Linked DNA regions of Homo sapiens: all the other regions are linked to region 1. The links come from fine-mapping of genetic effects on gene expression. A gene starts in region 1. Each other region holds a variant in brackets. All regions are shown on one strand. Distances are from middle to middle.

Region 1 (8,000 bases):
TTAGACCCAGGAAGGCGGGAGGGACCCCTTGGGCACTGGAGCTCCTGGGTGGCCCTGCAGCCGGCACTCCCCCGTCTTCCAGATGACAATTTGTCGGGCACGAGCGGTATGGAAGTGGACGACCGCGTGTCGGCGCTGGAGCAGCGGCTGCAGTTACAGGAAGACGAGCTGGCGGTCCTAAAGGCGGCGCTGGCGGATGCTCTGCGTCGCCTGCGGGCATGCGAAGAACAGGGAGCGGCGCTACGCGCGCGGGGCACCCCCAAGGGCCGGGCGCCTCCGCGCTTAGGCACCACTGCCTCGGGTATCCCCGTTAGACTGGAGGGGTGGGATGGGGAGGACCGGGGCCTGGTCCTTATACTCACCCTCTTCTGTCCCCTAACCCCATCCCTCCAGTGTGTCAGCTCTTGAAAGGCCTTCCCACCAGGACGCCCCTTAATGGCTCGGGACCCCCGCGGCGCGTGGGTGGCTATGCCACGTCCCCATCCTCTCCCAAGAAGGAGGCGACCTCCGGGCGCAGGTAAGGCACAAGGCCGGGACCCCCAGCCTCTTCCAAGACCTCGTGGGAGACAGAGGTGGTTTGTTTGCCTGAGCTCCAGCAGCAGAGGGTGCAGGGAGAATCTCGCTTGCTCACGGCACTCGCCTGCTGGCCTAGAAGGCTCTGCCCCCACCTGTGTGCTCTCTTTTAGCAGTGTCCGCCGCTACTTGTCACCAGAGCGCCTCGCCTCGGTGCGCCGTGAGGACCCCCGCAGCCGGACCACATCCTCCAGCAGCAACTGTAGCGCCAAAAAGGAAGGGTAAGGACTGGGGCGGCGTCAAGCCGCAGAAAGAGATAGGGAGGAAATGGTCGAGAAATGTAGTCATGCCCCAGGCCACGAGGTCGTAACCTAGAGTGGGGCCAGCTAGTTCAAAAGCGGGGACGGTGCCAGAGCCTTGGAGGGACCAATCTTGAGGTGGCACGGTAACAGTGGAAGGTCTGGGAGGGCGGAGTCAATATTGAGGGGCGTGGCCAGAGTTTTTAGAAGCTGGACGGTCAGGTCTACTGGGTGAGGAAGTCAGGGAGGAGCTTGGCTTATGGGCGTGGTTATTAAGGTACAGGAGAGGCCCCGTTGAGTTTCAGGGATGAAGTCAAGGCAGCAGCCACAGAGTTTCTACAAGGAAAGAGGGAGTCTGAGGAATTTAAGGGTGCAGCCACAGTGTTCGCCTGGGCGAAATTAAAATCTGGGGTACGGAGTAACAGAGGCTGAGACCAGGTGGAGGCATTCCAGATTCCAGAAGCTTTGACATCAAAATCGGGGGGCACTGCCAGGTTGAAAAGGGCGTGGCTTAAAGGTTGGGCGGGGCCGTAGGGGCGTGGTCAAATGCCAAGAGGTGCAGCCAACTTGGAGGCCTCGAAGGTATTCACATAAGGAATACGTGAAAATGGACGTAATCAGAATGCCTGGCGGGCCGGAGAAGGAGCGTTGGCGGGAGGTAGCAGTCAATTCTCAAGCAACTGAGTCAACTCAGGGACAGGGTTAGAAGGGAGGCTCAGAATGACAGGCGTGGTCAACTCCAGAGGCGGGGCCATACTGAAGATCTGGACAGAGTCAAAAACTAAGGCTATATAATTCTAGCAGTTTGGGAGGCGGAGGCGGGAATCATCGCTTGAGCTCAGGAGTTCGAGACCAGGCTGGGCAAAATAGCGAGCCCTCGTCTTTACTAAAAATGAAAATAAATTAGGCCTGGCGCGGTGGCTCACGCCTGTAATCCCAGCACTTCGGGAGGCCTAGGCGGGTGGATCACAAGGTCAAGAGATCGAGACCATCCTGGCCAACATGGTGAAACCCCCTGTCTATTAATAATACAAAAATGGGCGTGGTGGCGCGTGCCTGTAGTCCCAGCTACTCGGGAGGCTGAGGCAGGAGAATCACTTCAACCCGGGAGGCGGAGGTTGCAGTGAGCTGAGATCGCGCCACTGCACTCCAGCCTGCTGACAGAGCAAGACTCCGTTAAACAAACAAACAAAAAACAAAAAACAAAAAACAAAAAAAAAAAGAGAGAGAAAGAAAATAGCCGGGCGTGCTGGCCTTCGCTTGTAGACCCAGCTACTTGGGAGGCTGCGGCAGGAGGCTCACTTAAGCCTAGGAAATTCGAGGTTTCAGTGAGCCATGATCACGCCATTGCACTCCAGTTTGGTCGACAGAGCCACACCCTGTATCAAAAACAAAACAAAACAAAAATCACCCTAAGGCTGGAGTTATGGTGCAGTGGGCGTGGTCAGCGCTAGGAGGCCACGCAAGGGCAAGACCAAGGTCAAAAGCTGCACATTTCAACTCTGCTCAAACATAGCAAACACAAATACAGCGTTGTGTATACTCCAGGCACTTCCCAATAATTAACCAATTTCACCCTCGCAACTACCCCCGGGAGGTGTGAGTACTCTTATTTATTTATTTATTTTGAGACGGAGTCTTGTTCTCGTTGCCCAGGCTGGAGTGCAATGACACAATCTCAGCTCACTGTAACCTCTGCCTCCCGAGTTCGAATGATTTTCCTGCCTCAGCCTCCCAAGTAGCTGGGATTACAGGCGCCAGCCACCACGCCAGGCTAAGTTTTGTATTTTTAGTAGAGACGGGGTTTCACCACGTTGGCCAGGCTGGTCTTGAACTCCTGACCTCAGGTGATCTGCCCGCCTCGGCCTCCCAAAGTGCTGGGATTACAGGCATGAGCCACCGCGCCCGGCCGGGTACTCTTATTATCCCCATTTTTTAAATGAGGAAACCGAGGCAGAGGTTGGACGACCTGTGTACACTGCTAGGAATTAGCAGAACTGGGGTTTTAACTCAAGCAGGCGCGCTCCCGAGTCCATGTTCTCAACCACTCTCCCCCACCCACCCCGAAAGAACCTGGGATCGGGAGTCCACAGCCCGGGATGTGTGACCCGGTGGGACCCTCCGGCTCCAGGGGTGGCTGTGGAGGGCGGGGCAGGGGCGCGGCGGCCCGGGCGCCTCCCAGGGCCGGAAGCGGCAGAGCCGGTCCCGGCTCCACCCCCGGCCCCGAAGCTCCGCCACCCGCCGCCATGAGTAGCTTTGGAGCTGGGTGAGACCCTTTCGCAGACCACCCCCCATCTCCTCTCCGCGCTCCCGGGGCTTAGATCTCAGGTTTCACCCAACCCCTGGGACCCAGACCGGCGTGGGGACACGCCCCTTCCCTTAAACTCTCCCCGTTTCTCCCTCTGCTTGACGTTTGGTGTGCTGGGGGAACTGCGGGTGGGGGGCGCTGGGGAGCACCTTGCTGATTAGGAGGGAAGGGTCCTTGGTGACTCCCTTCTTCCAGGATCGCGTCCCTGCCACTTCGTGCTGTGTGATCTTTGGCGATCACTGCCTCTCTGGGCCTGTGTCTTAGGCTCTGCAAGATCAACCGAGCAAAGCACACGGCCTGCAGAGAGGCAGCGCTCTGCCCCTTACTCGGCCCCGTTTTCATCGGAGACCTCCGGGGAGCGGTGGGGGTGGAGGAATGGTTTCTCCCCTTTTCTGAACTGAATACTAAGACCCTTTTTTTTTCTTTGTCCTTTCCTGACAGCAAAACCAAAGAAGTTATCTTCAGTGTGGGTGAGTGGGGAGATGGGGAAGGGCTCGGTGGAAGCTTGCTTGTTGGGGTGACAGGCTGGAGCCAGAGGTCAGGAGTCTTGGCTACTGGGTCTTTGCCTCTCTGGCCTCAGTTTCCCTGCCTTTAAAAAAATAAATAAATAAAGCTGGAAGAGGAGAGGGAATAGGGATGGGGCTGGTGTCAGTGCCTGACCTCTGGGGGTGTCCTGGCAGAGGATGGCTCCGTGAAAATGTTCCTGAGGGGCCGCCCTGTGCCCATGATGATCCCAGACGAGCTGGCACCCACCTACAGCCTGGACACACGCTCGGAGCTGCCTTCTTGCCGGCTCAAGCTGGAGTGGGTGTATCCTTTTGCTGGAATCTCCTTGGTGCTCCCATCCCCCCAGGAGGAAATAGAAAGGCGGTCAAGGCAGCTCAGGCCTGTAATCTCAGCACTTTGGGAGGATCGTTTGAGGCCAAGAGTTTGAGACCTGCCTGGGCAACACACAAAACAAGCACAGCACGTTCAAGGGCTATGTGGCCAGAGTGGGATTGGTGCATTTGAGCAAAAAGAGTTGGGAATGGCTGGAAGCCCGGGCTCTGGAGTCTGACAGAGATGGGTTCAAACCCCAGTCCAGCCCGTACCTGGCCGTGTGACCCTGGAAAAGTCGTCTTGACTCTGAAAAATGAATTTTATGATCTCAGGTCCATAGACCTGTGAAATAATGTGTAAAGGTACTGAGCTCATAGTATGTGCCCCATGCACAGGGACTGATAAAACACTAACTCAGCACATTGGGAGGCCGAGGTGGGTGGATCACTTGAACCCAGGAGTTTGAAACCAGCCTGAGCAACATAGCAAGACCTCGTCTTTACAGGAAATAAAATAGCAGGCCGGGCGCGGTGGCTCATGCCTGTAATCTGAGCACTTTGGGAGGCCGAGGTGGGCAGATCACCTGAGGTCAGGAGTTTGAGACCAGCCTGACCAATATGATGAAATCCTGTCTCTACTAAAAATACAAAAATTAGCCGAGTGTGGTGGCATGTGCCTGTAAACCTAGCTACTCGGGAGACTGAGACAGGAGAATCGCTTGAACCCAGGAGGCAGAGGCTGCAGTGAGCCGAGATTGCCCCACTGCTTTCCGGCCTGGGCCACAAGAGTGAAACTCCGTCTCAAAAAAAAAAAAAAAAAAAAAAAAAAGAAAAGAAAAAGAAAAAAAAAATAGCCAGCCATGGTGGCATGCTCCTGTGGTTCCCAGCTACTCTGGAGGCTGAGGTGGGAGCATCACTTGAGCCTGGGAGGTCGAGGTTGCAGTGAGCCATGATTGTGCTATTGCACTCCAGCCTGGGCGACAGAGCGAGACTCCTTTCTCAAAAAAAAAAAAAAAAAAAAAAAAATCCAAAATAATAACTCAAGCACTTACTATCTGACAGACACTGTTGTAAGTTATTCCAGGTATGAATTTATTTTTTTACAACTAGTGGCCTCCAAGAGCTCTGAGGCCTACAGTTTGGAAATTATTATACCTCCTTTCCAGATAAGGAAACTGAGGTTATAGGTAGGAGACAACAATCCTGATTCTGGGACCCAAACTTTTTCCTAAAATCCTATTGAGCTTGGAGTCCACACCCCAGGAACCCGGTCCTTGTCTGCTTCTCTCTGGGCCTTGGTTTCCTCTTTGGAGGAGCCAGGGTGGTTGGTGAAATGGCCTGGCCTTCTGGGTGCCCAGAGCCTTCTCGAGGCAGCTGGAAATATCCCCTGGAATCTGTCCCAAATGTCCTGCCAGTAGGGCTTGATAAGCATCTGATGAGAGGTGGCTGAGACTGCAAAAGTGAGGACCTCAGATTGCTCCCCTTTGCAGTGACTGCAGGTCAGAGCAGTTTCATGGGGTCAGGATATATGTATATTGACAATCATTCAGATATTTTCTTGTTTTTGAGACACCCAGGCTAGAGTGCAGTGGCACGATCTTGGCTCACTGCAACCTCCACCTCCTGGGTTCAAGCCATTCTTCTGCCTCGGCCACTACAGTAGCTGGGTGGCATGGGCCACCATGCCTGGCTAATTTTTTTGTGTGTTTTTTAGTAGAGACAGGGTTTCGCCATGTTGGCCAGGCTGGTCTTGGACTCCTGACCTCAAGTGATCCACCTGCCTCGGCCTCCCAAAGTGCTGAGATTACAGGCGTGAGCCACCGTGCTTGGCCCATTCAAGATATTTTCTGAACATCTGAGACATAGGGCTGGGGACCCAGTGCTGACCATGACAGCATCTGCCTGCCCTCCTGGGGCATACAGTCTAGCATGGGAACAGACTCATTGAGAGTGACAACCCAGAGTGTGCAAGACTGGGATGGGGAATCCACAGGGACAGGGCTGACCCAGCCTGGAGTCATGGAGGGCTTCCTGGAGGAGGAGATACAGAAATGAAAAAAACAAAACAAACAAACAAAAAAAACAGCCCAATCTCAGCCACCATGGAACTCACAGTCTTATTGGGGAATATGAGCAGTTAACAAATAAACCAGATAACTATCAGCTTGGGCAACAAAGCGAGATCCCATCTCTACAGAAAATTTCTTTTTAATTAGCCAGGCAGGCTGGGTGCATTGGCTCATGCCTGTAATCCCAGCACTTTAGGAGGCCAAGACAAGTGGACTGCTTTAGCCCAGGAATTTGAGACCAGCCTGGGCAGCATGGCGAGACTGCATCTTTACCAAAAATATACAAAAAATTTGCTGGGCATGGTGGTGCATGCCTGTAGTCTCAGCTATTTGGGAAGCGGAGGCAGGAGGATCACTTAAGCCCAGGAGATTGAGGCTGCCTCTTCTGTCATTTATAAGGACACTTGTGATCGGATTTAGGGGCTACTCTGATAATCCAGGATGATCTCATCTTGAGATCTATAATTATATCTGCAAAGACCCATTTTCCTTGTAAGGTCACATTTGCAAGTTGTGGGGATTAAGAAACAGACATAGCCCGGGCGCGGTGGCTCATGCCTATAATCCCAGCACTTTGGGAGGCCGAGGTGGGCAGATCACCTGAGGTTGGGAGTTCAAGACCAGCGTGACCAACATGGAGAAACCCTTTCTCTACTAAAAATACAAAATTAGCCAGGCATGGTGGCGCATGCCTATAATCCCAGCTACTCAGGAGGCTGAGGCAGAAGAATCCCTTGAACCCGGGAGGTGGAGGTTGCCGTGAGCTGAGATCACACCATTGCACTCCAGCCTGGGCAACAAGAGCGAAACTCCATCTCAAAAAAAAAAAAAAAAAAAAAAAAAAGGAAACAGACATTCATTTTTTTTTGGAGTGGGAGGGGACCATCAGCCCACTACAGGGGTGAGAGTGGAAACAGAAAAACCTCATTCCAATGACCTTGTTGAGTCTGGTCCTCAGCCAGTGTGTGTGATGCAAAATACATTCCTCGGCTGGGCGCCAGCGGCTCAAACCTCTAATCCCAGCACTTTGGGAGACCAAGGTGGGTGGATCACCTGAGGTCAGGAGTTGGAGACCACCCTGACCAATATGGTGAAACCCCATCTCTACTAAAAATACAAAAATTAGCCTGGCATGATGGCATCTGCCTGTAGTCCCAGCTACTTGGGAGGCTGAGACAGGAAAATGGCTTGAACCCAGGAGGCGGAGGTTGCAGTGAGCTGGGATCATGCCACTGCACTCCAGCCTGGGTGACAGACTCTGTCTTAAAAAAACAAAACAGGCCGCGCGTGGTGGCTCACGCCTGTAATCCCAGCACTTTGGGAGGCTGAGGCGGGCGGATCATGAGGTCAGGAGATTGAGACCATCCTGGCCAACATGGTGAAATCCCATCTCTATTAAAAATACAAAAATTAGCTGGGTGTGGTGGCGTGTGTCTGTAATCCCAGATACTCAGGAGGCTGAGGCAGGGGAATCGTTTGAACCAGGGAGTCGGAGGTTGCAGTGAGCTGAGATTGCACCACTGCACTGCTGCCTGGAGACAGAGCGAGACTGCGTCTCAAAAAAAAGAAAAAATAAATAGGCTGGGTGCCGTGGCTCCCAGCACTTTGGGAGGGCGAGGCGGGTGGATCACAAGGTCAGGAGATCGAGACCATCCTGGCTAACATGGTGATACCCCGTCTCTACTAAAAATACAAAAAATAAGCCGGGCATGGTGGCGGGCGCCTGTAGTCCCAGCTACTCAGGAGGCTGAGGCAGGAGAATGGCATGAACCCAGGAGGCGGAGCTTGCAGTGAGCTGAGATCACGCCACTGCACTCCAGCCTGGGCGACAGAGTGAGACTCCATCTCAAAAAAATAAATAAATAAAAAAATTAAAAATAAATAAATAAATAAAAACAAAACAAACAAACAACAACAACAAAACACATTCCTTAACCAGCCCCTGGGTGGCTCCAGCTATGGCTACCGTGGCCGAGACTGCCGGGCCAACCTT
Region 2 (8,000 bases), 43 kb after region 1:
ACAGAGGAGGAAAAGGGGGAGGTGAGATAGCCTGGTGGCATCGGGGACAAGGCTGGTGAGTGAGCCCAGGGGTGCTGGGGGATGCGGGGGGCTGTAGCACTTCTCCCTCTTGTCCTCAAAATCCTCCAAGTTTTTCAGCTTTGCTGGATTTTGGGGTGGCTGGCAGGATGCGGCAGCCGAGGCTGCTAAAGTTGGGGGGGCCAGGTCTTCCTAGTCTTTCCTGTCCCCCCACCATCTCTCCATCCTTGGGTATATTTCTCTTCCCCCCGACTCTCTGGAAGGGGCCAGCAGGGACCCAAGAAGTGGGGGCCTGTGGGACAGACAGGGGGAGCTTCTTGTGGATGTGAGATTTGGGGGTTTACCCCCTCAACAGAGCCTAAGGGGCAGAACTTAGATCCCAACCAGAGAGGGTCCTGGAAGGGGAACGGGGTTATGGGGATCAGGTGATGGAAGGTCGCTTGCTTTCTTTGTGGGGAGAAGGTCGTATCTTCTAGTAGGTTCTCAGAGGGGCCAGAGACGCTCAGAAAGACTTGAGAAAAATTACAGAAGTTCAGAGAGTGAAGAGAAAAACCTCAGGGGAAGGGAAGCTGTTTAGTTAACAGCGACAGGAGGTTTGCCCAGTCTTGAGACATCAAGTGACTTAGACAACTGCCTTGCTGCTGCGGGCCTCGGTTTCCCCATCTGTACCAGGAAGGGGTCAGAAATAGCCTCACACTCCCAGCTGCCACACATACGTCGGCTGCACTGTGGCGTTCTAAGAGTCTGACGTTCCATGCTGACTTTTGGGGTTTCCACGTTGGGCAGATCTCACGTGGGGAAGAAGAGAGGGCTGTCTGGGCACCCCTCCCCCCCATGTCCAGCATCCGCAAGATGCCAGCAGGTTGGGGAGGAGGGGTGGGAGGGAGGAGGGGTGAGAGCTGGACCGGTTCCCCCTTGAGGAAATTAGCAATGGGAAGTGTATTTCCTCCTCTGGCTGCCGGAAGTGTCTCCTGCCCGGGTACCCGAGTTAGGTCAGCAGAGCCCTGGGGGTCGATAGAAAGTGGGGCAAAGGGGACTTCTAGCCCTCGGTGGGTGTCTCCTGCCATGAAGAACCGGTTTATTTCTTGTCTCAGCCCCCTAGTCCCCGTGGAATAATAATAATCGTTCAAATACTGCATGTTACGGAGCTGATATCGCATTCTAGCAAGGACGTTCCGGTCTGTGATGTGATGACTATAAAGCCTGTGCCCCCTTTTACAGAAGGGAGAAACTGAGGCTCCTGGAGACCTAATTCTCTAAATGTCACAGGAGGAAGGGAGAGACTAGGGGCAGAGAGATGGGGAGAGAGAGGGCAGAGGAGAGGGGAGGGAGGTTATTTTGAGTGACTTGGTCTGGGTGGGAGGTTTCAAGTGGAAGGGAGGGACTGGATCACACTGTTCCAGCCTGGAGTACGCCCCCACCCATCCCATCTCCACAGGACCCACAAGCTTCTGCCCAAGAGTCTGGGGTGGGGGAGGCAGCTCTGCCGCTGAGGACCCCACAGGGGGCAGGACTTACTGAGCACGACTCAGCCCTGACCTTTCAAAGTCAATTAAGAAGCGGATAGATCTTGCCCTTTCCAGCTCTCCCCTGACCACCTCTTCCCCTGGGAATGGACTCCTCTCCCTCCCTTCCCCCTCCTCCCCATGCCCTTGTTTGAGCCTGGGGTGGGGTGGGGCAGCCTCATGGGCAGAGAGTATGTTTTTACTCCATGCCTCTGGCCTCTGCAAAGCTTCTGGAATGGTTTTTGCCATTGGCAAATGGCTCTGTGCTCCCTGACCATGACCTTGGTAATTTATTGAGCACCTACTGTATGCTGGGCCTGTCCTGGATGCTGGGGATACAGCAGTCAACAAGGCACACAAAGTCTCTGCCCTCCTGGACAACCTATTCTAGGCAGACAGACACAAACAAAACAGGGTGATGTGAGGAGAGGGTCCTGGGGCAGGGGAGAGTCGGGGACTGAATGGAGAGGGACTCCCGAGGAAGTGAAGGAGGGAACGGAGCTACTCAGACTATCTGAAGGAAGAGCAGTGGCTCACATCTGTAATCCCAGCACTTTGAGAGGCCAAGGTGGGTGGATCACTGGAGAACAGGAGTTCGAGACCAACCTGGCCAACATGGTAAAACCCCATCTCTACTAAAAATACAAAAATTAGCTGGGCATGGTGGTGCACACCTGTAATCCCAACTACTCAGGAAGCCAAGGCAGGAGACTCACTTGAACCCAGGTGGCGGAGGTTTCAGTGAGCCGAGATCGTGCCACTGCACTCCAGCCTGGGCGACAGAGTAAGATTCTGTCTCCAAAAAAAAAAAAGAGCATTCCAGACTGAGAGTATGGTAAGTGTGCAAAGGTTTGAGGCTGGAAAGAAGGTCACTCACTGGCCTTGAGACTGCTGAGGCAGGAAGGAGAGGTGAGTGAGATTGGCTAGGCTGCCCCAGCAGGTCAGACAGAACCTTGTGACTCCGGATGAGGAGTCTGGATTTTACCGCAAGTCCATTCAGAAGCCATTGGAGGGTTTCAAGCAGGGAAGTAACAAGAACTAGGCTGCATGTGGTGGCTCATGCCTGTAATCCCAGCACTTTGGGAGGCCAAGGCAGGAAGATCTTTTGAGCCCAGGAGTTGGAGACCGGCCTGGGCAACATGGGGAAACCCCATCTCCACAAAAAATAGAACGATTAGCCAGGTGTGGTGGCACACACCTGTAGTCCCAGCCACTTACGAGGCTGAGGTGGGAGGATGGCTTGAGCCCATGAGGTCAAGACTGCAGTGAGTCAAGATTGCACTACTGCATGACAGAGTGAGACCCTGTCTCAAAAAAAAGAAAGAAAGAAAGAAAAGAAAAGAAGAAAAGAAAGAGCTGATTTTCATGATAGAAAGATCTTGCCCGGGCGCGGTGGCTCACGCCTGTAATCCCAGCACTTTGGGAGGCCAAGGTGGGTGGATCACCTGAGGTCAGGAGTTCGAGACCAGCCTCACCAACATGGAGAAACCCTGTCTCTACTAAAAATACAAAATTAGCTGAGCGTGGTGACGCATGCCTGTAATCCCAGCTACTCCAGAGGAAGAGGCAGGAGAATCACTTGAACCCGGGAGGTAGAGGTTGTGGTGAGCCAAGATTGGGACATTGCACTCCAGCCTAGGTGACAAGAGTGAAACTCTCCATCTCAAAAAAAAAAAAAAAAAGAAGAAAAGAAAAGAAAGATCTTTCTGGCTGCCATATGGGAAGTGATTTGAAGGAAGCCAGAGTAGCCCAGAAAAGCAATGGTGATGCTACTGCAATGATCCCAGCGAGTGATGACGCTGATGCTGACGCAGAGTGGACAGTGGCAGGCGTTTGAGAGAGACGCACACAGATTCAGGAAGCACTGGGGAGGTGGAGCCCAGAGGACTTTCCCATGGAAAGATGCTCTGGCATCTGGGAGGCTCCCATGGACCTCCTTCCGTCCCCTCTCTGGGGATTGGTTTCCTCATTTGTCAATAGACTCCACCTTAAACTCCATTTTTAACATGTTTTAAAAGTGCATCCTGGGGATTCTTCAGAGGTGGCCTCTCCACCCCCACCTTGTTTCACCAGAGCAGCTAGCAGCTCACCCTTTTCACTGTTTTAGATTGGTTTCTGGTTAAGATCTTGTTGGGGGAAAAAAAAAAAAAGCCAGGTTTCACGTCCAAAAGAACTAAACCAAAAGACCCCTGGATGGAATGGCTCCTGAAGCTGCCTGTGACTCTGGACTTGGCTCTGCTTCTCTGCGGGGTTGATGATAGTCAGGGGCTTGGTCCATGAATATCCTTTGCCCTGTGTATGCAGATCTTCCCAGAACAAAGTGGGTGACAGGCTCAAGGTTCTCACTCAGGAAAATTGCGGGGGAAAGGGCAGAGACAGTGAAGAGAGTGGTCCCTGAGGGAGGAGACTGCTGGCGCTAACCCCAGGGCTTCCCCATGCTCCCTGATCTTGATCTTGACCTTGACTGTTCCCAGCAGCTCCTGGCTCTCCCCTTTCCCTTACTCCTCTGCAGCTTTGGTTCCCAGTCCCCACTGGCAGCCCAGGGCCCTTTTCTGTCCAGTTATT[TTTTATTTA/A]TTTATTTATTTATTTATTTATTTATTTATTTATTTAGAGATGGAGTTCGCTCTTGTTGCCCAGGCTGTAGTGCAATGGCACCATCTCAGCTCACTGCAACCTCTGCCTCCCGGGTTCAAGCAATTCTCCCACCTCAGCCTCCCAAGTAGCTGGGATTACAGGCATGTGCCGCCACACCTAGCTTATTTTGTATTTTTAGTAGAGACAGGGCTTCTCCATGTTGGTCAGGCTGGTCTCGAACTCCCGACCTCAGGTGATCCTCCCGCCTTGGCCTCCCAAAGTGCTGGGATTACAGGCGTGAGCCACCGTGCCTGGACTTCTTTTTTTTGAGATGGAGTTCCTCTCTTGTCTCCCAGGCTGGAGTGCAGTGATGCTATCTCAGCTCACTGCAACCTCTGCCTCCTGGGCTCAAGCAATCCTCTCGCCTCAGCATCCCGAGTAGCTGGGATTACAGGTATGTGCCACCACGCCCAGCTAATTTTTGTATTTTTAGTAGAGACAGGGTTTCACCATGTTGGCCAGGCTGATCTTGAACTCCTGACCTCAGGCGATCCTCCCGCCTTGGCCTCCCAAAGTGCTGGGATTACAGGCATGAGCCACTGTGCCTGGCCTGTCCAGTTATTCTGGGGTGGAAACTGAAGCACAGGCTGGAGATGAGGACTGAGAGCAGAGATGGCTGCACTCTAGACATCAGGACCTTGGACAGGTCTTGGAACAGCTCTGTGCCTCAGTTTGTCAAAGAGAAAGAACAACTACTTTCCTCATAGGAGTCTTGAAAATTTCAAAGAAGTAATATCCATAAATTGGCCGGGCATGGTGGCTCACTCCTATAATCCTAGCATTTTGGGAGGCCAAGGTGGGAGGATCTCTTTTTTTTTTTTTTTTTTTTTGAGACGGAGTCTGGCTCTGTCACCCCCGCTGGAGTGCAATGGCGTGATCTCAGCTCACTGCAACCTTCGCCTCCCAGGTTCAAGCGATTATCCTGCCTCAGCCTCCTGAGTAGCTGGGACTACAGGTGTGCGCCACCATGCCCAGCTAATTTTTGTATTTTTAGTAGAGACAGGGTTTCACCATTTTGGCCAGGATGGTTTTGATCTCTTGACCTCATGATCCGCCCGCCTCAGCCTCCCAAAGTGCTGCGATTACAGGGAAGGATCTCTTGAGCTCAGGAGTTCAAGAGACCAGCCTGGGCAACACAGGAAGACCTGCATCTATTTTATATATATATATATATATATATATATATATTTTTTTTTTTTTTTTTTAAGCCAGGCATGGTGGTGCATGCCTGTGTTCCCAGCTACTTGGGAGGCTGAGGCAGGAGGATCACTGGAAGCCCAGGAGGTTGAGGCTGCTGTGAGCTGTGATCGTGCTACTGCATTCTAGTCTGGACAAAAGAGCAAGACCCTGTCTCAAAAAATAAATAAATAAAAAGAAATAATATGCATAAAAATGCCTGGAATGGGATCTGCTATGTAGTAGGGCTCAATTAACGTTTGCTGTTATTATCCTTGTTGACAAGAATGGGATTCTTGGGTAAGGAGTGGGAGGCTGGCCCCAGCCCTGGCCCTATTGCTGCCATGCTGTGCATCCTTAGGGAGGTGACTCAGCCTCTCTGGGCCCCTTCTCCCTGTCTGTGACATGATAGAGTTAGACTAGTCTGGCATTTCCTGAAGCATGATATGATACCTGTGCCAGTTTTACAGGAATTCTGCAGGAAAATGCTAAAATCTGAGTTGGGTCATTTTTTTCCCTTTTTCTCTTTCTTTCTTTCCTTTTTTTTTTCTTTTTTTTCTTTTCTTCTTTTTTTTTTGAGACAGAGTTTTACTCTTTTGCCCAGGCTGGAGTGCAGTGGTGCGATCTCAGCTCACTGCAACCTCCGCCTTTTGGTTTCAAGCAATTCTCCTGCCTCAGCCTCCTGTGTAGCTGGGATTACAGGCACGTGCCACCACATCCAGCTAATTTTTGTATTTTTAGTAGAGATGGGGTTTCACCATGTTGGCCAGGCTGTTCTTGAACTCCTGACCTCGTGATCTGCCTGCCTCGGCCTCCCAAAGTTCTGGGATTACAGGTGCGAGCCACCACACCCTACCTTTTTTTTTTTTTTTTTTTTTGAGACAGGGTCTCACTCTGTTGCCCAAGCTGGAGTGCCGTGGTGTGATTATAGCTCACTACAGCCTGAATCCCCTGGGATCAAGTGATCCTCCTACCTCAGCCTCCCCAGTAGCTGTGACTACAGGTATGTACCACCACACCTGGCTAATATTTTTATTTTTATTTTTTGTAGAGACTGGGTCTCACTGCATTGCCCAGGCTGGTCTTGAACTCCTAGGCTCAAGCGAACCTCCCACCTCGGCCTCCCAAAGTGTTGAGATTACAGGCATGAGCCACTGCACCCGGCCTGAGTTGGGTCTTTATTCTAATATCTGTCAGGGGAAAATATGCCTGACACCTCAAATCTGTGTTTTCAGAGAGTGGTTGCTTAGGATGGGGCTGAAGTAGGCATTGTTGGGGTGTCCAGTCTCTGCAGTTCACAGCAATTATGGTGAGGAGTGTGGGGAGAAGAAGGTTGGAGTGTCCATGACTCCCTCACTGCTGTCCTCTCTCCCAACAGGCACTGCAGTCAGCGGTGAACTGACTTCATCCCAATCCCTCAGCCCCCACCAGGACCAGTCTGGAGTCCCTCCCCTGCCCCCATTGAAATTTCCCTTCCGTCCCCAAACTTACCTCTGATCTAGACCTTACTCACCTCCTTCCTGTTTCCTAAGACTCCTTCCTGCCGTCCACAGACCGAGCCTTTTATCTTTGTCCACCCTGTGCCAGACACCTCCTTTTCCAGAACCTTCTCCTTACTGGTGACCTTACTTATCTCTGTTGCTTTCTGGGGTCCTAGGAAATGCCAGCACTCCCACCCACATTGCCTGAACTTTCCAACACTCCCTAACTGCGCTGTGTCCTATCTCAACACTTTCTCATGTATTTCTTGTGTCTTCTAGAACATTCCCCCGCCATTATTACTTCAATATGGCTACACATACTTCCTAATTGCCCTGCAAACCATCTCCTTCTCACCATTGCCCAGCGATGCTTTCGTCTCCTCCATAAACACTCCCGGAGACCAATTTTTGTGTCACCCCCATACTCCCTCGTTGACACACTGACTCCATACATAACCTCCTTGAAAAACCTCTTTATTAATCTCACCATCCTCCAGACTTCCCTCCTGTCATAATTCCATCCCTCCTCCAACTTTTCCCTCTCAAGCTCTGCCCTTCCCAGCCCAGCCCAGCCTACCCAACCTCATCTCTTCCCTGTAGACCACATCCCACCATGTTCCCCTGAGCCTCCAAGGAAGGGGCTCAGGGGGCCCCATGGCCTCCCGCTCCCTGTGGCCCCACAGCCCCCGTGGGCCAGGGGAAGCGCCCCAGAAGCCGAAGTGCCCACCATGGGCAACCACACGTGGGAGGGCTGCCACGTGGACTCGCGCGTGGACCACCTCTTTCCGCCATCCCTCTACATCTTTGTCATCGGCGTGGGGCTGCCCACCAACTGCCTGGCTCTGTGGGCGGCCTACCGCCAGGTGCAACAGCGCAACGAGCTGGGCGTCTACCTGATGAACCTCAGCATCGCCGACCTGCTGTACATCTGCACGCTGCCGCTGTGGGTGGACTACTTCCTGCACCACGACAACTGGATCCACGGCCCCGGGTCCTGCAAGCTCTTTGGGTTCATCTTCTACACCAATATCTACATCAGCATCGCCTTCCTGTGCTGCATCTCGGTGGACCGCTACCTGGCTGTGGCCCACCCACTCCGCTTCGCCCGCCTGCGCCGCGTCAAGACCGCCGTGGCCGTGAGCTCCGTGGTCTGGGCCACGGAGCTGGGCGCCAACTCGGCGCCCCT
Region 3 (8,000 bases), 130 kb before region 1:
ATCTCAAAAAAAAAAAAAAAAAAGTACTAATTTACAGGCTGGGCATGGTGGCTCACGCTTGGAATCCCAGCACTTTGGGAGGCTGAAGTGGACGGATTGCTTCAGCCCAGGAGTTCAAGACCAGCCTGAGCAACATAATGAGACCCTGTCTCTACAAAAAATTGAAAAAATCGTGCCAGGCATGGTGGTCTGTGCCTGCAGTCCTAGCTACTCAGGAGTCTGAAGTAGGAGAATCACTTGAGCCTGGAGTTTGAGGCTTCAGTGAGCCATGATAGATTCCAGCCTAGGCAACAAAGTGAGACCTGGTCTCAACAAAAGTATTAATTACACAAATAATGCATTGCTTATCACAAGTAAATTAGAAAATACAGATAAGGAAAAGGAAGTTGATATCTCGTGAGCTCACCAGATGGCAGTGGTCCCTGGCTCACACGTGTACTGACACATGTTTAAATAGTGGAGAACAGGTGTTTTTTTGGTTTGTTTTTTTCCCCTTCCTCATGCTACTTTGTCTAAGAGAACAGTTGGTTTTCTAGTCAGCTTTTATTACTGGACAACATTACACATACTATACCTTATCATTAATGAACTCCAGCTTGATTCTGAACCGCTGCGGGGCCTGAACGGTGGGTCAGGATTGAACCCATCCTCTATTAGAACCCAGGCGCATGTCCAGGATAGCTAGGTCCTGAGCCGTGTTCCCACAGGAGGGACTGCTGGGTTGGAGGGGACAGCCACTTCATACCCCAGGGAGGAGCTGTCCCCTTCCCACAGCTGAGTGGGGTGTGCTGACCTCAAGTTGCCATCTTGGGGTCCCATGCCCAGTCTTAGGACCACATCTGTGGAGGTGGCCAGAGCCAAGCAGTCTCCCCATCAGGTCGGCCTCCCTGTCCTGAGGCCCTGAGAAGAGGGGTCTGCAGCGGTCACATGTCAAGGGAGGAGATGAGCTGACCCTAGAACATGGGGGTCTGGACCCCAAGTCCCTGCAGAAGGTTTAGAAAGAGCAGCTCCCAGGGGCCCAAGGCCAGGAGAGGGGCAGGGCTTTTCCTAAGCAGAGGAGGGGCTATTGGCCTACCTGGGACTCTGTTCTCTTCGCTCTGCTGCTCCCCTTCCTCAAATCAGGAGGTCTTGGAAGCAGCTGCCCCTACCCACAGGCCAGAAGTTCTGGTTCTCCACCAGAGAATCAGCATTCTGTCTCCCTCCCCACTCCCTCCTCCTCTCCCCAGGGACAGTGAGGTCCCAGGCCCCACACCCATGGAACTGGAGGCCGAGCAGCTGCTTGAGCCACACGTGCAAGCGCCCAGCCTGGAGCCCTCGGTGTCCCCACAGGATGAAACAGTAAGTTGGTGGAGGGGAGGGGGTCCGTCAGGGACAATTGGGAGAGAAAAGGTGAGGGCTTCCCGGGTGGCGTGCACTGTAGAGCCCTCTAGGGACTTCCTGAACAGAAGCAGACAGAAACCACGGAGAGACGAGGTTACTTCAGACATGGGACGGTCTCTGTAGTTACAGTGGGGCATTAAGTAAGGGTGTGTGTGTTGCTGGGGATCTGAGAAGTCGATCTTTGAGCTGAGCGCTGGTGAAGGAGAAACAAGCCATGGAAGGAAAGGTGCCAAGTGGTCAGGCGAGAGCCTCCAGGGCAAAGGCCTTGGGCAGGTGGGAATCCTGATTTGTTCCTGAAAGGTAGTTTGGCTGAATCATTCCTGAGAAGGCTGGAGAGGCCAGCAGGAAACAAAACCCAGCAAGGCCTTTTGTCGTGAGGGCATTAGGGAGCTGGAGGGATTTTGAGCAGCAGAGGGACATAGGTTGTGTTAGTGTTTGAGCACCAGCCCTCTGGTCCCTGTGTAGATTTAGAGGACCAGACTCAGGGATGGGGCTGAGGGAGGTAGGGAAGGGAGGGGGCTTGGATCATTGCAGGAGCTATGGGGATTCCAGAAATGTTGAGGGGACGGAGGAGTAGGGGATAAACAAGGATTCCTAGCCTGGAACCAGTGCCCAAGTCCTGAGTCTTCCAGGAGCCACAGGCAGCCTTAAGCCTGGTCCCCATACACAGGCTGAAGTGGCAGTTCCAGCGGCTGTCCCTGCGGCAGAGGCTGAGGCCGAGGTGACGCTGCGGGAGCTCCAGGAAGCCCTGGAGGAGGAGGTGCTCACCCGGCAGAGCCTGAGCCGGGAGATGGAGGCCATCCGCACGGACAACCAGAACTTCGCCAGGTCGGGATCGGGGCCGGGGCCGGGGCCGGGATGCGGGCCGGTGGCAACCCTTGGCATCCCCTCTCGTCCGGCCCGGACGGACTCACCGTCCTTACCTCCCCACAGTCAACTACGCGAGGCAGAGGCTCGGAACCGGGACCTAGAGGCACACGTCCGGCAGTTGCAGGAGCGGATGGAGTTGCTGCAGGCAGAGGGAGCCACAGGTGAGTCCCTCATGTGTCCCCTTCCCCGGAGGACCGGGAGGAGGTGGGCCGTCTGCTCCGCGGGGCGTGTATAGACACCTGGAGGAGGGAAGGGACCCACGCTGGGGCACGCCGCGCCACCGCCCTCCTTCGCCCCTCCACGCGCCCTATGCCTCTTTCTTCTCCTTCCAGCTGTCACGGGGGTCCCCAGTCCCCGGGCCACGGATCCACCTTCCCATGTAAGACCCCTCTCTTTCCCCTGCCTCAGACCTGCTGCCCATTCTGCAGATCCCCTCCCTGGCTCCTGGTCTCCCCGTCCAGATATAGGGCTCACCCTACGTCTTTGCGACTTTAGAGGGCAGAAGCCCTTTATTCAGCCCCAGATCTCCCTCCGTTCAGGCCTCACCAGATTCCCTCCGGGATCTCCCTAGATAACCTCCCCAACCTCGATTCCCCTCGCTGTCTCTCGCCCCACCGCTGAGGGCTGGGCTGGGCTCCGATCGGGTCACCTGTCCCTTCTCTCTCCAGCTAGATGGCCCCCCGGCCGTGGCTGTGGGCCAGTGCCCGCTGGTGGGGCCAGGCCCCATGCACCGCCGCCACCTGCTGCTCCCTGCCAGGGTACGTCCGGCTGCCCACGCCCCCCTCCGCCGTCGCGCCCCGCGCTCCACCCGCCCCTTGCCACCCGCTTAGCTGCGCATTTGCGGGGCTGGGCCCACGGCAGGAGGGCGGATCTTCGGGCAGCCAATCAACACAGGCCGCTAGGAAGCAGCCAATGACGAGTTCGGACGGGATTCGAGGCGTGCGAGTGGACTAACAACAGCTGTAGGCT[G/C]TTGGGGCGGGGGCGGGGCGCAGGGAAGAGTGCGGGCCCACCTATGGGCGTAGGCGGGGCGAGTCCCAGGAGCCAATCAGAGGCCCATGCCGGGTGTTGACCTCGCCCTCTCCCCGCAGGTCCCTAGGCCTGGCCTATCGGAGGCGCTTTCCCTGCTCCTGTTCGCCGTTGTTCTGTCTCGTGCCGCCGCCCTGGGCTGCATTGGGTTGGTGGCCCACGCCGGCCAACTCACCGCAGTCTGGCGCCGCCCAGGAGCCGCCCGCGCTCCCTGAACCCTAGAACTGTCTTCGACTCCGGGGCCCCGTTGGAAGACTGAGTGCCCGGGGCACGGCACAGAAGCCGCGCCCACCGCCTGCCAGTTCACAACCGCTCCGAGCGTGGGTCTCCGCCCAGCTCCAGTCCTGTGATCCGGGCCCGCCCCCTAGCGGCCGGGGAGGGAGGGGCCGGGTCCGCGGCCGGCGAACGGGGCTCGAAGGGTCCTTGTAGCCGGGAATGCTGCTGCTGCTGCTGCTGCTGCTGCTGCTGCTGCTGCTGCTGCTGCTGCTGCTGCTGCTGGGGGGATCACAGACCATTTCTTTCTTTCGGCCAGGCTGAGGCCCTGACGTGGATGGGCAAACTGCAGGCCTGGGAAGGCAGCAAGCCGGGCCGTCCGTGTTCCATCCTCCACGCACCCCCACCTATCGTTGGTTCGCAAAGTGCAAAGCTTTCTTGTGCATGACGCCCTGCTCTGGGGAGCGTCTGGCGCGATCTCTGCCTGCTTACTCGGGAAATTTGCTTTTGCCAAACCCGCTTTTTCGGGGATCCCGCGCCCCCCTCCTCACTTGCGCTGCTCTCGGAGCCCCAGCCGGCTCCGCCCGCTTCGGCGGTTTGGATATTTATTGACCTCGTCCTCCGACTCGCTGACAGGCTACAGGACCCCCAACAACCCCAATCCACGTTTTGGATGCACTGAGACCCCGACATTCCTCGGTATTTATTGTCTGTCCCCACCTAGGACCCCCACCCCCGACCCTCGCGAATAAAAGGCCCTCCATCTGCCCAAAGCTCTGGACTCCACAGTGTCCGCGGTTTGCGTTGTGGGCCGGAGGCTCCGCAGCGGGCCAATCCGGAGGCGTGTGGAGGCGGCCGAAGGTCTGGGAGGAGCTAGCGGGATGCGAAGCGGCCGAATCAGGGTTGGGGGAGGAAAAGCCACGGGGCGGGGCTTTGGCGTCCGGCCAATAGGAGGGCGAGCGGGCCACCCGGAGGCACCGCCCCCGCCCAGCTGTGGCCCAGCTGTGCCACCGAGCGTCGAGAAGAGGGGGCTGGGCTGGCAGCGCGCGCGGCCATCCTCCTTCCACTGCGCCTGCGCACGCCACGCGCATCCGCTCCTGGGACGCAAGCTCGAGAAAAGTTGCTGCAAACTTTCTAGCCCGTTCCCCGCCCCTCCTCCCGGCCAGACCCGCCCCCCCTGCGGAGCCGGGAATTCCGAGGGGCGGAGCGCAGGCCGAGATGGGGAATGTGGGGGCCTGCAGAGGACCCTGGAGACGGAGGCGTGCAGAAGCTCAGTCTCGGGGCGGAGGCTTCGCGCCCTTAGTCCTCCTGGACGGCCCGTTACCTTCTGCGTTGTCCCGATGGGGAAACTGAGGCCCTGAGCCAGAAGCACACGCTGGGGGGAGGCAGAAAGCGCGGCCAGAGGCGGAGGGAAAACAAAGGGAGAATCACAGACAGACGGGAGGGGGACGGACACACACAAGGGGACAGAGACCCGAGTGGAGAGCTGGATCTCGCCTTCCCGGCGTGGGGCGCAGGGTCGGCCAGAAAGAAGATCGAGAAGAGCGGGGAGTGGGGGCGAAAAGGGGGGACAGGTGGGGGAGGAGGCTGGGGAAAGCCCGAGGGAGGAAGAGAGGGAGGGAGGAACTTCCCAAAGTTGCAAAACATGGCTACCTTGCCTGCGGAGCCGAGCGCGGGGCCGGCGGCTGGGGGGGAGGCGGTGGCGGCGGCGGCGGCGACCGAAGAGGAGGAGGAGGAAGCGCGCCAGCTCTTGCAGACTTTGCAGGCGGCCGAGGGTGAGGCGGCGGCGGCGGCCGGGGCCGGGGCGGGCGCAGCGGCTGCGGGAGCTGAGGGCCCGGGATCCCCGGGCGTCCCCGGGTCGCCCCCCGAGGCCGCTTCCGAACCGCCCACGGGCCTCCGCTTCTCGCCCGAGCAGGTGGCGTGCGTCTGCGAGGCGCTGCTCCAGGCGGGCCACGCCGGCCGCTTGAGCCGCTTCCTGGGCGCACTGCCCCCGGCCGAGCGCCTACGTGGCAGCGACCCGGTGTTGCGCGCGCGGGCCCTGGTGGCCTTCCAGCGGGGCGAGTACGCCGAGCTCTACCGGCTACTCGAGAGCCGCCCCTTCCCCGCCGCCCACCACGCCTTCCTGCAGGACCTCTACCTGCGCGCGCGCTACCATGAGGCCGAGCGGGCCCGCGGCCGCGCGCTTGGCGCAGTGGACAAGTATCGACTGCGCAAGAAGTTCCCGCTGCCCAAGACCATCTGGGACGGCGAGGAGACAGTCTACTGCTTCAAGGAGCGCTCCCGCGCAGCGCTCAAGGCCTGCTACCGCGGCAACCGCTACCCCACGCCGGACGAGAAGCGCCGCCTGGCCACACTCACCGGCCTGTCGCTCACGCAGGTCAGCAACTGGTTCAAGAACCGGCGACAGCGCGACCGGACCGGGGCCGGAGGCGGCGCGCCCTGCAAGAGGTGAGGGGCCTCGGGCGGCGCAAGTCCAGCTCTCCCGGGGACATCCCGTCCACCAGCCCTCTTCCCCCGTGCCCACTGCTGGGGCCGGCGCGCCGAGGTCCTCGGACATCTCCCGGGACCAGCTCACAATCTCAGGCGCCCGCGGGGCGCGGGGACTAAGTGTGGACGGGACAGGCACCCGCCCGGGCCCTCTCCCCGCACGCGTCTCCTCTTCCAGCGGCTCCATTCCGAGCTCCTTCCCAAATCCCATCGGTGTTGGGGAATCACACTGCGGGGGGCACTAGAGGGACTGAGGAAAAAGGACAGGGCCTGTGGCCACTCCACTCCGCGTAGGGGCTGCCTCCCAGCCCCCTTTCTTCACTGACCGTTACTCTTACCCACCCGCCCCCACACTCCCTCCGGGCCCGGACGGCGTGGTCCGTCTTCTGCCTTTGTTGTGAAACGTGAACCTTTCCCAGCTCCGGTTTCCCTGTAACCCAAACCCTTCTCCTCCCACCCTGAGCGCCGGCCTCTCCCTTCTCTGACGCCCCGCGGGGAGGGCACCGGGAACTGGGCTGGCGGCTGCTGCTCCCTCTCTCCAGGCCACTCGCCCGCTTTCCGCCCAACCAAGGAACTTTTAGGGCAACCTGGGAGCTCAGCCTCTGGGGACCCGAGGCCGAGGTGGGGGAGAGCAAGGGCCTCTTCCCTCCCCAGCGCTTCTCTGCAGTGGTGTCCACGCAGGGCTTGCAAAAGGCCCTGGAGTTTGGAGTGGTCTCAGAGAGGCGTCATAACCCCTGGAATGATCCACCGAAACTTGGGCCAGGGAAAGGTGGGGGAGCAGCTGGCTGGCTATGCGGGAGGCCCCACAGGCTAAGGGACCCCAGCTGACAGCCATTTCTCCGGCCAGCGAGTCTGATGGGAATCCCACGACTGAGGACGAGTCCAGCCGAAGTCCTGAGGACCTGGAGAGAGGGGCGGCCCCAGTGTCCGCCGAGGCCGCTGCCCAGGGCTCCATATTCCTGGCAGGGACCGGCCCTCCCGCGCCTTGCCCGGCTTCCTCCTCCATCCTGGTGAACGGGAGCTTCCTGGCAGCCAGCGGCTCCCCAGCAGTGCTCCTCAACGGGGGCCCCGTCATCATCAACGGCCTGGCCCTGGGCGAGGCCTCCAGCCTGGGCCCGCTGCTGCTCACTGGGGGCGGGGGTGCCCCTCCACCGCAGCCCAGCCCTCAGGGGGCCAGCGAGACCAAGACCTCTCTGGTCCTGGACCCTCAGACAGGGGAGGTGCGGCTGGAGGAGGCTCAGTCGGAGGCCCCTGAGACCAAAGGGGCCCAGGTGGCTGCTCCGGGACCAGCCCTTGGAGAGGAGGTCCTGGGGCCCCTGGCCCAAGTGGTGCCTGGCCCCCCGACGGCTGCCACCTTTCCTCTGCCCCCGGGGCCAGTGCCTGCTGTGGCTGCCCCACAAGTGGTACCGCTCTCCCCACCCCCGGGGTATCCCACGGGCCTGAGCCCCACCTCCCCACTATTGAACCTGCCCCAGGTAGTACCCACCTCACAGGTGGTGACCCTGCCCCAGGCTGTGGGGCCCCTGCAGCTGTTGGCAGCCGGGCCAGGCAGCCCTGTGAAGGTGGCAGCTGCAGCAGGCCCTGCCAATGTGCACCTCATCAACTCCGGGGTGGGCGTGACTGCCCTGCAGCTGCCTTCGGCCACTGCCCCAGGTACCCCCATCTCCCTCCCTCAGGCCTAGGTGAGAGCCGGGGAGGGGTGCAGTCATCTCGGAGAGGGAGGGGCTGTCCCTGGGCTCCTGGAGGGCATCTCATCCCTGGCAAGTCCCAGTGCCCCAAGGCCCACCACAAGGCTCCCTCCGCCCGCCCTCCAGCTGCACAGTCTCCACTTCTCTCTGGCTTGGCCTGCTCTCCTGGCTCTCACCTGCGCTCGGTCCCTCTCTCCCCACAGGAAACTTCCTCCTGGCCAACCCTGTGTCTGGCAGCCCCATCGTGACGGGTGTGGCCCTGCAGCAGGGCAAGATCATCCTCACCGCCACCTTCCCCACCAGCATGCTCGTCTCCCAGGTCCTGCCGCCAGCCCC
Region 4 (8,000 bases), 300 kb before region 1:
AAGGAGAGGTCACCAGATTCAAATGACCAACTTCTTCATCCTGGAGAGTTCCCGTCCCAGGAATTAGAAGGAGATTGAAATCTAGATTCTTGGGTTCCCGATCCATTGTGTGACATCCAAGACATCCACTTACGTCTGCCTTCTCAGACAAAAGCCTTCATGTTATCTTCATTTTACAGACAGGACAACTAGATTAGTCTGCTAGGGCTGCCATAACAAAGTGCCAGAGACTGGGTGGTCTAAACAACAGGTATTTATATCTCATGATTCTGGAGGCCAGAAGTCCAAGATCAAGGTGTCAGCAGGGTTGGTTTCTTCTGAGGCCTCTCTCCTAGACCTTCTTCTCCCTGTGTCTTCACACAGTCTTCCCTCTGTGTGCATCTGTGTCCTAATCTCCTCTGCTTATAAGGACACCAGTCAGTAAATTAGGGCCCGCCCTAATGACCCCATTTTACCTTAATTATCTCTTTAAAGACCCTCTCTCCAAATATAGTCAAATTCTAAAGTACTGGAAGTTACGCCTTCAACATATGAATTTGAAGGGGACACAGTGTCAGCCCATAACAACAGAGAGTTCAACGAGAAGACCATGTCTAGGGGAGCACAATGGATCAGGAACCCAAGAGCCTAGATTTCAGCTCCGTCACTAACTGGGGAACCTTAGGACAAGTCCTTTCACCTCTTGGGCCTCAAGAGGCTCATCTGTAAAGTAAGGCTTAATGAAGGCTTTTCCAGGGCTGGAAGTCAGAGTACGTAACACTAGAAGGCATGGGTGGGCCATTGTGCAAGCTTGGAGTGAGATCCTGGAGGGCCCCATTGGATTAGCCATTAAGCTTTTAGATGCTGGACGCAGAGGAAGTACTAAGAGTCCCAGGTACATGGGACAGGGTGGTTGAGGGGCTACTGAGGGGACCTCAAATACTGGCTATTCATTAACCAACCATTGTGGATATATTTCAATTTTTTTAAAAAAAATTTTAATGTTAGAGGCAAGATCTCGCTATGTTGCCCAGGCTGGTCTCAAACTCCTGGGCTCAAGTTATCCTCCCACCTCAGCCTGTCAAAGTGCTGGGATTACAGGCCTGAGCCATTGCACCTGACCTGAAATATTTCAATATTTTTAACAACCAGTTGGACCATACTGGTGCATATCAAAAGGCCATGCTGGGCCTGATTTTGGATGCTGGAGAGGAGGGGTAGGGAATGACCTGGGGCGTCTCAGTCTCCAGCCACCGTAAAGACCCTCCCTTCGCCAGTTTGGTGGCTCAAATCTGTAATTCCAACACTTTAGGAGGCTAAGGCAGGAGATCCCTTGAGGCCAAGAGTTCAAGACCAGCCTGGGCAACATCGCAAGGCCCCATCTCTACTAATATAGATAGACAAAATTATATATATATATATATATATTATTTTATTTTATTTTGAGACAGGGTCTCCCTCTGTCACTCAGGCTGGAGTGCAATTTGGCACGAGCTCAGCTCACTGCATCCTCCCTCTCCTGGGTTCAAGCGATTCTCCTGCCTCAGCCTCCTGAGTAGCTGGGATTACAGGCATGTGCCAACACACAGCTGGCTAATTTTTGGATTTTTACTAGAGACGGAGTTTCACCATGTTGGCCAGGCTAGTCTGGAACTCCTGACCTCAAGTAATCTGCCTGCCTCAGCCCCCCAAAGTGCTGGGATTACAGGCGACAGCCACCGTGCCCAGCCTAATTTAATTTAATTTTTTAAAAAAATAAAATTAAAGACCCTCCCTTTTGCTCCCCACGCAGGCCAAGCTGATCGTCCCCAACAGCACGGCGGGCCTGATCATCGGCAAGGGAGGCGCCACGGTGAAAGCCGTGATGGAACAGTCAGGAGCATGGGTGCAGCTGTCCCAGAAGCCGGAGGGCATCAACCTGCAGGAGCGCGTGGTGACGGTCAGCGGCGAGCCCGAGCAGGTGCACAAGGCCGTGAGCGCCATCGTGCAGAAGGTACAAGAAGACCCCCAGAGCAGCAGCTGCCTCAACATCAGCTACGCCAACGTGGCAGGCCCCGTGGCCAACTCCAACCCCACCGGCTCTCCGTACGCCAGCCCCGCGGATGTGCTGCCAGCCGCGGCCGCAGCGTCGGCCGCCGCCGCCTCCGGCCTGCTGGGCCCCGCCGGGCTGGCTGGCGTGGGGGCCTTTCCCGCCGCGCTGCCCGCCTTCTCAGGCACCGACCTGCTGGCCATCAGCACGGCGCTTAACACGCTGGCAAGTTACGGCTACAACACCAACTCCCTGGGCCTGGGCCTCAACTCGGCCGCAGCTTCCGGCGTCCTGGCCGCCGTGGCCGCCGGGGCCAACCCAGCAGCCGCCGCCGCCGCCAACCTCCTGGCATCCTACGCGGGCGAGGCCGGGGCCGGGCCAGCCGGAGGGGCCGCCCCGCCGCCGCCCCCGCCTCCCGGAGCCCTGGGGTCCTTTGCGTTGGCCGCAGCCGCCAACGGCTACCTCGGGGCCGGGGCGGGCGGCGGGGCGGGCGGAGGGGGCGGCCCGCTGGTGGCCGCTGCAGCCGCGGCCGGGGCGGCCGGGGGCTTCCTGACGGCGGAGAAGCTGGCGGCTGAGAGTGCCAAGGAGCTGGTGGAGATTGCGGTGCCTGAGAACCTGGTGGGAGCCATCCTGGGGAAGGGGGGCAAGACGTTGGTGGAGTACCAGGAGCTGACGGGCGCTCGCATCCAGATCTCCAAGAAGGGCGAGTTCCTGCCAGGCACGCGGAACCGGCGGGTCACCATCACGGGCAGCCCCGCGGCCACGCAAGCCGCTCAATACCTCATCAGTCAGCGGGTCACCTACGAGCAGGGAGTGAGGGCCTCAAACCCCCAGAAAGTGGGATGAGGCCTGTGGTGTGTGCTCCCACCCTTTTCTCTCCTCCCATCTCCTCCTCTTCCCTCTCCTCCTCCCCCCCAACTCCTGACCTCAGCTTGGTGTAGTCCTGCTCCTCTTGGGATGGGGCTGGGGTAGGCCCGACTGCACCCTCCCCTTCTGGTAGTCATAGGCAGGATTGAGTGACGGTTGGGAAGGGGGCTCAGAAGCCCCCTCCCCAGCCCGGAACTGACCCCTCCTTCCTCCCTCCCTGTGCTTGGCTGGGCCTGACCCTTCCTGTCCCAGGGCCCAGGTCTGTGTGATATCTGTATATATTGCATTTTGTTGATTTTAATAGAAAACAAAGCGTTATTTTCTCTTTCTTTCCCTCCTTTTTTTTTTTTTTTTTTT[TTTTG/G]GTAAGGATTTTTTCCCCCTTTATAAGTTTTTGTTTCCATATGGGAGGAGGGGAGGGAGCCTCTGGGTCACCCAGAATGAGGGGCCTTCCCAAAACACAACACCCCACCTCTCTGCTTTCAGTTCTAGATCTGAGGGAAGCCATGGGAGTAGAGGTAGCAGAGGCGTCTGAGCTGAAATGGGGCATTTGGAGCAAGGACCCCAGAGTTCCCAGATCTTCTCAGCTACTCTCCTCCCACTGGAGCTGTCCCTCCTAGGTGGGAATGTTCACTCTTTTGTTGTCAGGTTGTATGGGGGGGCAGGGACAGTGCTGCTGGGAAGGATGCCAGCTCTGGGATTGGGCCAGTCCTGTGGGCAAGACTTGCAAGAGGCTGGATCAACTTGGTGTGGTATCTCTGATGGCTTAGAGTAATGGCAATGAGGGTCTCTGTTGTGATGTCACTGAGTACTTTCTGGGGTGCTTCTGGGCACCCCTTATGATGTCACAGGAAGCAGTTCCTCAGAGGTTACTTCCTGTGAACATAAGGGAGCAGGTACTTCCTGTGATGTCTCAATGAGTTCTTCCTTGAAGGTCACTTTGGTGATATCATGGGAAGGTGTACTTCCGGTGATGCCTAGAGGTCACGTCCTGTGATGTCATTAGGCTGAAGCATGTACTTCCTGTATTGGACAGTGACCAGTCTCTGACCTGCCTTCTCCCTCCACACCCTTCTTTGGTGGGTGTTGGCCTGGGGGTCTTCCTAGGAAGAGAATAAGGCACGGGACTTGGATCCAATCTGGAGGACTCTAACGGAAAAAAACCAATATTGTCAGGGTCATCTCCATTCAAACACGTCAAGTCTGCGAACTCGCCCTGGAGGGAGGGGTGGGAGATGGACCTAGTGCAAACTACTGTTAAAGACCTCCCTTCCCACCCCTGCCTTTTGTGTGCATGCCTGTGTCTGCGTGGCTTTGTTTCATTGAATCGGGTGAGCCAAGTGTGTGGTGGCTCTGTCAGGCCAGTATGGCCAGGTGTAGAGTTCAGTGAGCCATAGTAGGGTCCCTTGGGCCAGAATGCTTCGTGTGGTCTGATAGGTTAGATTGGTTTGGTGGCTTCCAGCAAGCTGGCATACTTCGGTGATGTCTGATGGATCAGAATGTTTTGGTGTGCTCACCAGGGGCTCTGGAGAACTAGAATGTTCTGATGGAGTCTGACAAGCCAGGCGGCCTTGAGAGTTGGTTTAGGAGTGGCTCCCTGAGTGCTGTGGCTGTGGTCAGCTCTAAGGACCTGTTGGCAGACTGAGATTTCAGGGCCTGACAACCATGTAGACTAGGATAGCTGAGACCTCCCTCTACCCCCACCCATCTCCCTCTCTTCCTTGGAGACCACCTCCACTTTCTCCAACCCAAAGCAGGGCGCCCAGTGCCCTGGTTCCATCATCAGCATCTCTGGGGGAGGGGCGCCCCATGCCCACCCTCTCCCCCATTTGTCCGCCTCCTAGGTCTTCCAAACCCTTTTCTTCTCTATGACTTTGGGGGAAATCCAGCCTCCTTGTCTCTCTCCTAAAAAAGGAGGGAAGAAAAGCCACAGAGACAATTCCTGCCCCTAAAGCCTAGGAGATCCCTCTCCCTTGCTAGAGAGCCACCCCCAAATCAAAATGTGAAAATCCCTAGAAAGCAATAGCCTTCGAGGTACCTTGCACTGAATTTCCCACCCCAGCCCTTCCACCCGATGGGAGGCTGTAACTTGGGCACTGGGGTGACTTTTTCCATGCCCTTGTCATCTCCAGGGTGGGAGGCAGGCCCCACTTCCCCTCCCCTATCCCCCACTTCCCATTGTTGTTGCCCCACCCCTAATCTCCAGACTGAACCCAGATGGAGATCTGAGTGCCAAAACAATTCTTGATGTAACTTTGTACATATCTTCTACTACCGTTGGGGGCTCTTGGGGTTAGAGGTGGGGGCGGCTCTGTGGGCCATTGCTCCCCTCCACCTCTCAAAAGACCTTACAGTATTTCACAGTATCTCTACCCGCACGCGAGTATTACAGTATCTAGCTGGAATATCCCCCTACAGCCCCCCAGGACCCTATGAGGAAGGGAAGGAGCCAGGGAGAGTGAAGTAAGGTCTGGGACTGGGGAGGTGGGATCTGAATGAACTCATTTGCATATCATTTGCATCCTCCGCTTGGCAGCCGCTTTCTACAAACTCATTCACTGGAGTCTGGGTCCCAATCAGCCGGGTCCAGGACTCCTCTCACACAGACACATCTCCGGAGGCTGGGCCTCCTGAAAAGTGTTTGCTTGGGGTGTCTGTGTAACAACCCCTCCCTATTCATATTTCTTGGGGACCCCCTACCCAGCCAGCCAGGGTGATCTGAAAGGTATACTTTGCTAGCTCAGTGAGCTAGTTCACTCACCATGTTGGTGAGCAGAGAGCCACACCTTTCCCCATTTTACCTTGGGAAACTCACTCCACCATCTTTGCCATCTCTTGAAAGTCCCTTCTGCAATCTGACCTCAATCTTTTGTGCTGCAGTTTGTCCAGAGGGGACACAGATGTGGGGTCAGGGATGAGGATTATTGAAAAACCCATCATCTCTTTTTTTTTCCCCGTCTCCCTATTAGCCAATCCGATCTCAGAGTCTCTGAGTGGCCTCCTTGCACCCTTCTCTTCAGCACCCAGTAGGTGCTTAATAAGTGTTTGCTGCATTGGATTATCTCCCTATTCCTTCTCATTTGCCCTCTAGCTTCCCATACCTTCTCCAAGTGTCTTCCTCCCTTTCTTTGTCTGGCTCCCTATGACTTTCTATTTTTTTTTCCTCCGTGTGGTTCCCATTGTTTTCTGTCCTGTCTCTATCTTAGTCTTTGTCTGTCTTCCTCCTTTCCTCAAATGTCTCAACTCTCTCTCCCCAATTTCCCCATTTAAAAAAAAAAAAAAGTGCCAAACTTCCTTGGAACTGAGCCGCTCTGGGGGGAGAGGACCTTGGATAGAGGGGAGGAAATGGGACCATTTCTCTTTGAGGAGGTCCCTAAGAGGCATTGCAAAAGTGTGGACATGGAGCTAAATTGGGTCCCCCTTCCACAGCCCTCCCACCCTGAGTTTTTCTTAGAATCTTTGTAAGAAAAAAAAAAAAAGACAGAAAAAAGCTCTCCTTTTCAACTTACCCCTATCCTTTTGGGTCCCCCCAAATTCCACCAGCCAAGGAGAATCCCACTTGCCAACTTCCTGGCAAATCTATGGAAACTGGGGAGGAGGAGACAAGCTCAACTCCTCCTCTGCTAGCCCAAGGGGCGGTACCAACTGGATTCAAGAGAAGGACCTCAAAGCTCCTATGAGAAGAGGGGGTTCGATGTGCCAAATTAACCTCCTTCATCCCCCATCTCAGGGGGCTCTGAGCCAACCTGCCCAGCCACCTTCTTCTGCCCTGTCCCAGCCACCTCTACATGGGCAAGGAGGCTTCACTGCAATAATTAGTAGGGGTGGTGATCAGAAGACAATGATTTTGCCGTTTCTATCTGCCCTAACGCCTACCCTGGACTTGTAGTTGGGAATTATGGGTATCCCAAGTGGATGTTGATAAAAGCCGACCTATAGATGGTTGGGGACCTCTACTTGGAACACCAGGGTGTCGCTTATCTCCGAGGTGTATTTCCTCTCCCCTCTGGACCACCAAATCCTTCAATATCCCCTCATTCTGTTTCTCCTCCCTGTTCCTCCATCCCACATCCTCCTTCTTACTTTGTTTTGATTGGTGGCCAATTGTTTGGAAAATGAGAGGAGTCCCCCTGAATGGATGATTGCTGTTTCAGGACCGGGATTAGAGGCTGTGATAGACTGTGCAGTGGCAAAAGTATTAACAAGAGTGGCGATGAGGATGGCAGTTGGGGCGTCCAGGCTGCTGACTGAGTGCCCGCCTGTCGGTACAGCCAGCCAGGCCTTCGACAAGCACCTGCCTGGAAACCGGGCTCGCTGTCCTGAAAGCCTGGACTGGATGTCACGATGGGGAGAACGGGATCGCGATACCCAAGCTGGGGCACAGGCGAGCCAGGGACACTGGTTTACTGGGGTGATAACACCCAGCCCTGCTATCGCGATCCGTTTGCACTGTGGTCAGCTGTCTCCACGCCGTGGTTGGAGAGGGCTTGTCTCCGGGCGCCACTGCTGGTGTGTATGGTCTGTCTTAGTGTCCCCTGCAAGTTGCATTGGAGATTGCTGGGTGGCAGGGAGGGAAATGGGAAGAGAATCTGTGGGGTCATGGTGGTGAAGGCTGCTGGTTTTTAATCCCTTCTCAACCAGTCCAGGACACTTGTCTCCCAGAGATAACTGGGGGGGGACTGCCTAACCCCCCCTCCCCCACCCCTTTCCCTACCCCACCTCTCCCCCCAAAACCACCAACCTCTCATCTTCTAAGTGACTCCATCACCACCGGCCACCGGGACCTGCGGCCTCATTGCTCCAGCCCGCCCCACTCGACCGTCAGACTCGCTCATCGAACTCTTTTTGATTAACCCTTTCTGTGTTCATCCCACGGAAAACTGTGTGTCCGGCAGGGGGGAGGGGGGAGGCTAGGGGCAGTTGCTACCTTTCCTCCATCTCCTCCCACCACCCATGCCTCCCCACCCGCACCCCATCCCATGCCCCACCCCCATCCCTCACCCCTAGGGTCTGCCCCACCCTGGGGATTGACATCCTCTATAAATATCTATGCTATTTGGCTTTGTCCCTTTAAAAGGCGGGTCCAGGGGCGTGGCCTCCCTCAAATGGAGCGCTCACTCTGACCCCC

Evidence for each region. PIP is the estimated chance that this variant, and not a neighbour inherited with it, causes the effect.
Region 2: its variant is fine-mapped to the expression of EML2 in whole blood (INTERVAL, PIP above 0.99).
Region 3: its variant is fine-mapped to the expression of EML2 in whole blood (TOPMed, PIP 0.98).
Region 4: its variant is fine-mapped to the expression of EML2 in whole blood (INTERVAL, PIP above 0.99).

Annotation. Positions count from the first base shown.
Region 1 is chr19:45,634,435-45,642,434 of GRCh38, reverse strand. EML2 (EMAP like 2) reads left to right here and starts at 3,038. Exons shown (of 19, transcript NM_012155.4): 1 at 3,038-3,078; 2 at 3,562-3,590; 3 at 3,801-3,930; 4 at 7,964-8,000. The coding sequence starts at 3,059. It overlaps MIR330 (microRNA 330), which reads left to right and starts at 3,348; the gene lies at 3,348-3,441. It overlaps EML2-AS1 (EML2 antisense RNA 1), which reads right to left and starts at 941. Exons shown (of 2, transcript NR_130729.1): 1 at 669-941; 2 at 1-210. RefSeq lists enhancers at 475-534, 2,509-3,360, 3,830-4,124, 3,361-4,212 and silencers at 2,744-2,833, 2,854-3,133, 3,830-4,124.
Region 2 is chr19:45,591,409-45,599,408 of GRCh38, reverse strand. It overlaps GPR4 (G protein-coupled receptor 4), which reads left to right. Exons shown (of 2, transcript NM_005282.3): 2 at 6,712-8,000. The coding sequence starts at 7,543. Among named protein-coding and RNA genes, the nearest start is that of GPR4, 6.8 kb to the left of the region's middle. RefSeq lists enhancers at 759-1,395, 1,396-2,033. The variant TTTTATTTA/A (reference allele first, on the strand shown) is at 4,089.
Region 3 is chr19:45,765,979-45,773,978 of GRCh38, reverse strand. SIX5 (SIX homeobox 5) reads left to right here and starts at 4,727. Exons shown (of 3, transcript NM_175875.5): 1 at 4,727-5,937; 2 at 6,824-7,629; 3 at 7,868-8,000. The coding sequence starts at 5,135. DMPK (DM1 protein kinase) reads left to right here. Exons shown (of 15, transcript NM_004409.5): 10 at 1,227-1,338; 11 at 2,051-2,208; 12 at 2,314-2,411; 13 at 2,583-2,629; 14 at 2,919-3,008; 15 at 3,339-4,262. The coding sequence ends at 3,491. DM1-AS (DM1 locus antisense RNA) reads right to left here and starts at 6,183. Exons shown (of 2, transcript NR_147193.1): 1 at 5,848-6,183; 2 at 2,096-2,489. RefSeq lists enhancers at 1,831-2,388, 3,388-3,467, 3,908-4,017, 4,178-4,257, 5,749-6,308 and 1 more and silencers at 2,838-3,347, 3,588-3,747, 4,272-4,456, 4,308-4,847, 5,208-5,427 and 1 more. The variant G/C (reference allele first, on the strand shown) is at 3,220.
Region 4 is chr19:45,934,717-45,942,716 of GRCh38, reverse strand. NOVA2 (NOVA alternative splicing regulator 2) reads left to right here. Exons shown (of 4, transcript NM_002516.4): 4 at 1,772-8,000. The coding sequence ends at 2,854. Among named protein-coding and RNA genes, the nearest start is that of NANOS2, 24 kb to the right of the region's middle. RefSeq lists a cis regulatory region at 2,895-2,994. The variant TTTTG/G (reference allele first, on the strand shown) is at 3,233.